Linked DNA regions of Homo sapiens. The protein of the gene in region 1 purifies or fractionates together with the protein of each later gene. This does not show direct contact. Each region holds a gene or a part of one and is shown in the gene's direction. Other genes may lie near its edges.

The links. The genes of interacting proteins can lie anywhere in the genome.
Region 2: the proteins of KRCC1 (region 1) and GTF2IRD1 purify together in Homo sapiens (affinity purification with mass spectrometry; one large-scale study listed by BioGRID and IntAct). This does not show direct contact.

What each region holds. Positions count from the first base shown.
Region 1 is NC_000002.12:88,026,705-88,029,244, reverse strand, and holds the end of KRCC1 (lysine-rich coiled-coil protein 1), read left to right. Parts: intron 1-659; 5' UTR 660-681; coding exon 682-1,461; 3' UTR 1,462-2,040; downstream 2,041-2,540.
Region 2 is NC_000007.14:74,460,406-74,463,905, forward strand, and holds part of GTF2IRD1 (general transcription factor II-I repeat domain-containing protein 1), read left to right. Parts: intron 1-3,500. UniProt on the Homo sapiens protein: May be a transcription regulator involved in cell-cycle progression and skeletal muscle differentiation. May repress GTF2I transcriptional functions, by preventing its nuclear residency, or by inhibiting its transcriptional activation.

The sequences.
Region 1 (2,540 bases):
ATTAATTGAACATTAATATCAGCCACCCACCGTGGTTGTGTGGTTCCTATCCACACATCCCTGCTTATCTCACATTTTAGCCCTATGACAGCAACATGTGTATCGGTTCCTTTCTGCCCTCTTCGTCTCACTTCTGAGAAGGGTAAAGTTACTGGTACGTGACCTGGGAGGTATCTGACCATCCTGATGCTACCCTTTGGCATATAATGTCAAGATACTCAGCTTTTATGCTGAAATAGGTTGTAATTTGTTTGAGCTGCTTTGTTTTTCAAAGCTCTTTTTAAGAGCAAAGGAGGCCAGGTGCAGTGGCTCATGCCTGTAATCCTGGCACTTTGGGAGGCTGAGGTGGATGGATCACTTGTGGCCAGGAGTTTGAGACCAGCCTGGTCAACATGGTGATACCCCATCTCTACTAAAAATACAAAAATTAGCTGGGCGTGGTGGCACACACCTGTAATCCCAGCTACTCGGGAGGCTGAGGCAGGAGAATCACTTGAACCCAAGAGGCAGAGGTTGCAGTGACCCAAGAGCAACCCCACTGCACTCTAGTCTGGGCGACAGGGCGAGACGCCATCTCAAGAAAAAAAAAAAAAAAAAAAAGAGCAAAGGAAATGCTCAGGACAAGATGATCTGGTAAGAATTTTCTCCCTTTTTTGCAGAAAATCCCGTTTTGTCAACCTAATGAAGCATTCAAAGAAGACATATGACTCTTTTCAAGATGAACTTGAAGATTATATTAAAGTACAGAAAGCCAGAGGCTTAGAGCCAAAGACTTGTTTCAGAAAGATGAAAGGGGACTATTTGGAAACCTGTGGGTACAAAGGAGAGGTTAATTCCAGACCCACGTATAGAATGTTTGACCAGAGACTCCCATCTGAAACCATCCAGACCTACCCAAGATCATGCAATATTCCACAAACAGTGGAAAATCGGTTGCCTCAGTGGTTACCAGCCCATGACAGCAGATTGAGACTAGACTCTCTGAGCTACTGTCAGTTCACGAGGGACTGTTTCTCAGAAAAACCAGTACCCCTGAACTTTAATCAACAAGAATATATTTGTGGCTCACATGGTGTAGAACATAGAGTTTACAAGCACTTCTCCTCAGATAACAGTACCAGTACTCATCAAGCCAGTCACAAACAGATACATCAGAAGAGGAAAAGGCACCCAGAGGAAGGCAGAGAAAAATCAGAGGAGGAGCGGTCTAAGCATAAGAGAAAAAAAAGCTGCGAGGAAATTGACTTAGACAAACACAAGAGCATCCAAAGAAAGAAAACAGAGGTGGAAATAGAAACCGTACATGTCAGTACAGAAAAGCTTAAGAATCGAAAGGAGAAAAAAAGCCGAGATGTAGTCTCTAAGAAAGAGGAACGTAAGCGTACAAAAAAGAAAAAGGAACAAGGCCAAGAAAGGACAGAGGAGGAAATGCTTTGGGACCAGTCTATTCTTGGATTTTGAAGCTTTCAAAGTTGGTTCTCCCAAAGTTAAATTGAAAAAATAGGTGAGAGCTTGGTTTTATGATATCCGTGTTCATACCACTTTTCTTATGTGAATAGGTTCTTTAACTTCTAACAAAGGCCTAGTAAACAAAGTGTTTAGCATGCTTGCTCTCCAACACAGAAATTGCTTTTCCTCATTTTCTAAAAGCATTATTACATTTTTTGAACATATAGTGTAATTTCCTTTAATGAAAGTGACTCTGCTTTTATTCATCAAATTGCTTTGATGGTGGAAATATTTTCTGTTGGGAGGTTATTTATTTTAAATTGGAGGATTAATGACCTTTGCACAATCTGTTTCTTGATTGGGTTTGTTATAGTTTTGAGTTGGGTATTTTATGTTCATTGGTTTTTCTCTGTGAAGCAATTTTTTTCTCCTTTATTAGATCTAACTTGCAGTGTATTTTCTAGGCTGGAAAGTGGAAAATGAAATATATTATAATCTTAGGTTACATAAAGTTTCTAAAGTTTCAAAGAGTCTTGATACAAAATCAGTTTATATTCTGAAAATATTTATAATAAAGTATTCTAATTTCTACATGTTGTTGTGTGTCAGTCTGTTCCTATTTAACAATGATTTTTCTCTTGGGAGGAGGAGAGAATAACTTGGCAGTTCATCATACTTAACAGGCAAGATCTTTTGGGTAGGTCACACTTTGAAGCTGTAAAAATTCCTTATCTATCATACCTTGCTTGCTCACATTTGAACCTGGTTTTTAAGGTAGAAATCTATGACTGACTGTTACAGGACCCCACCACTTACCCAAAGTTAGCCTTTGGGTCGGGGGTTTCCTCACTATAGTCCCTTCACTGGTCGCCAGAATGATGTTATAGGAAAAGGGGTCCGAATCTAGACCCCAAGAGAGGGTTCTTGGATCTCACGCAAGAAAGAATTCAGGGCAGGTCCATAGAATAAAGTGAAAGCAAGTTTATTAGGAAAGTAAAGGAATAGAAGAATGGCTACTCCACAGACAGAGCAGCCCAGAGGGCTGCTGGTTGCCCATTTTTATGGTTATTTCTTGATGATGTGCATCCCCC
Region 2 (3,500 bases), on another chromosome or scaffold:
ATTAAAAAAAAATTTTTTTTTTTTAGAGATGGGGTCTTGCGATGTTGCCCAGGCTGGTCTCAAGCTCCTGGCCTCAAGCGATCCTCCCACCTCAGCTTCCCAAAGTGCTGGGATTACAGGCAGTATCCTTCTAATGTCCTTGGTCGGGCCTCCTCCAGCCTGTGGCTCGAGGGTCTAGATCTCCTACTGGCCTGGGTGGCATGGAGGGTGTAGTCTAGGTGGCCTGAGGGGTGCCCAGGGATCCCCAGTTTGGGAAGTCCTTGTCTTCAGGGATTTCTGGCCAATGTGGTCCGTATATTTAGAGATGCTGGGAGGAGGGGGTGGGAAATTGCTGGAAACACCCTATTATACACCAAGTAAGATTTTCATGTAGGATTGGCAAGGCCTGAGTGCTGGGAAAGTGTCTGCAATGGCTACCTTTCAAAGCTGGGAGACCCCGCCACGGGGGCGGTTGTGGACTTGAGGGGCTGACCCCACAGCACGGAGGCTGCTGGGAATTCCTGCACCTTTGCCATGCTGCCACCTGAGGCAGGTTCCCAGCACCTGAGCTGCAGCCTCTGGAGTGGGGGAAATGGGGGGAAAGTAAGGGGCCGGGGTCATGGGGTCCACGTCCACCTTCCGCCCGCCTGGGCAGTTTTCTTGGATGTAAAAGGGAGATGGCTCTCCCCAACCTGCCTGGGTCCCAGTGTGGTGCTGTAGTCCAAGGGACTTGGTGTGACCCCGTGGGGATGCCACAGCATGGGTGTGTGGGACCCCCGGGGGCAGGTCTGTGGTGGAGACAGGGTGGGAGGGCCTGGCTTGAGGGCTTGCGGTCCTGGGCACTTGAGGATGCAGAAGAGGCTGCATGGTTGGGGAGGGTAGGTAAGCAGGGGGCAGCTTAGCCCTTTCCCCTCCTGTTCCCTGTGACAGAGGGGAGACCCTCCAGGCTGTTTGTGTCTTAGATGGTTGGCCGAGGGTAGGCCTCTTTGCTGGCTGGGGTCTAGCAGGGTCTCAAGGTGCATTTTCTGGCTACTGGCAGAACCACCATCAAAGCAAGTCCGTATCTTTTCGTCTATCCATCTGTTGTTACGCCAGCCAGTGAGGACCTTGCAGAGGCGTCAGGCCTGAGGGAGTCTCATTAGGTCCTGGTCCCCAGCCCCCGGCTGGCACATGAGAAGGGCCCACTTTATATTTTATTTTATTTATTTATTTAAGATGGAGTCTCACTCTGTCACCCAGGCTGGAGTGCAGTGGCGCGATCTCGGCTCGCTGCAACCTCTGCCTCCCGGGTTCAAGCAATTCTCTTGCCTCAGCCTCCTGAGTAGCTGGGATTATGGGTGCATGCCACCTCGCCCAGCCAATTTTTGTATTTTTAGTAGAGATGGGGTTTTGCCATCTTAGCCAGGCTGGTTTTGAACTCCTGATCTCAAGTGATCTGTCCACCTTGACTTCCCGGAGTGCTGGGATTACAGGCGTGAGCCACTGTGTCCGGCCCCACTTTATATTTTATTAAAAATATCGTTGAGGAGTGAAGGCTATGCTATACCAGGAACTTGCCTGGCTCACACCCTTATGTCGTCCAACCCCCGTCAAGACATAGAACAGCGCTTTGGGAGGCTGAGGCGGGAGGATGGCTTGAGGCCAGGAGTTTGAGACTAGCCTAGACAACATAGTGAAACCTCCATCTCTACAAGAAGTACAAAAATTAGCCAGGCGAGGTGGCTCATGCCTGTAGCCCCAGCTACTCAGGAGGCTGCGGCGGGAGGATCACTTGAGGCCAAGAATTTGAGACCAGCCTGGGCAACATAGCAAGACCCCGTCTCTTAAAAAAAAAATTAGCCGGGTGTGGTGATGTGTGCCTGTAGCCCCAGCTACTTGGGAGGCTAAGGCAGGAGGATTGCTTGACCCCAGGAGTTAGAACAATCCTGTAACCCCTAAAAGTTTTTGAAGCCCGTTTGTTCATCCTTGTCTCTTGTCCTGACCCCAGCAACCACTGATCTGTCTTCTGTATATGGTTTTCCATTTGTACAATGTCACATAAATGGAATCCTACAGTCCACAGCCTCTGAATCTGGCTTCACACAGCATAATGCATTTACGGCATTGCTGGGTACACGGGTAGCTGGTCCCTTCTGGTCCCTGAGTAGTGTTCCATGGTGTGGATATGCCACATACCTCTAGCCACTCTCCTCTCTAGGGAAATCTAGCAAACCGGCTTGGCCGGCCCTGCATCAGCTCGGGACCCCCCAGAAGAAGGTGGTTCCTCTTTCTCATTTTCACAAAGGCACCATCTGGCTGGCGGGGGGCCTGTGGCCTGCACCCCATCACTACCCACCCCCCACATCAAGAGCTGACCCCAAGCCGGGGGAGCTGCTCATCTCCGCCCTCAGAGCTGGAATTTCATCTTCTGTTTCTGGTGACTCATACTGTGAGCCCCGCGATGAAATTACACCTGCCTGCCGCTGCCCTCCGGGCCTCTGGCCCCATGCGATCCTCCCGCCGCCATCCAGGTGGGCTCTGGAGTAATTGAGGCTATGGGGCCAGGACAGCTGGAGGTTGAGGGCGGTGCCAGGGAGGGGAGCTGTCTGTGCCCTGGGGTGTCTTGCCCATCATCTTATGTATCCCCACCCTGTGGGAGTCTGGGGTTCCTGGTGGTGCGTCTCTGGTCTTCACTCCTGCAGCTGTTTTGCTTGGGGTAGAAGTTTCATGTTTGCCTGAAATAAGAGCAGGACTTCTGAGGGTAGGGAAGGAAGGTGGTGAAGCCACTGTTGCAGGCAGGAGCAGGAGTTAGGATCAAACGGAACAGGGCTGGCCGAGTGATGTCACATCTCTGGGCTTTGGTTTGTTCATCTGTTCTTATTATTATTTTGAGACAGGGTCTCGTTCTGTCACCCAGGCTGGAGTGCAGTGGTGCAATCATAGCTTGCTGCAGTCTTGAACTCCTAGGCTCAAGTGATTCTCCCACTTCAGCCTCCTAAGTAGCTGGGCTTGGAGGCACTTGCCACTACACCCAGCTAATTTTTTTATTTTGTAGAGATGGGGGTCTCGCCATGTCGCCCAGGCTGGTCTTGAACTCCTGTGTTCAAGTGATCCCACAACCTCAGCTTCCCAAGTGCTGGGATTAGAGGGGTGAGCCACTGCGTCCTGCCTGTTCATCTTTAAGTGGGAGAACAGAACACTAGGTTTGCAGGGCTGTGAGACTCAGCTGAGGGTAATGTGAGTGTGTGGATTACCACAGAGCCCTGGAGGGCCCCAGGGGCCACCAAGGAGCGGGTGGTGGGGACATGTGAGGCTCAAGCCTCCTGTGCCCCTTTGGGCCAGAGTAGGACCACTGTTGTTTTTTGTTTTTTTTTTTTTGAGACAGAGTCTCACTCTGTCGCCCAGGCTGGAGTGCAGTGGCGTGATCACGGCTCACTACAACCTCCGCCTCCCGGGTTCAGTTGATTCTCCTGCCTCAGCTTCTCGAGTAGCTGGGATCACAGGTGCGTGCCACCACACCCGACTAATTTTTGTATTTTTAG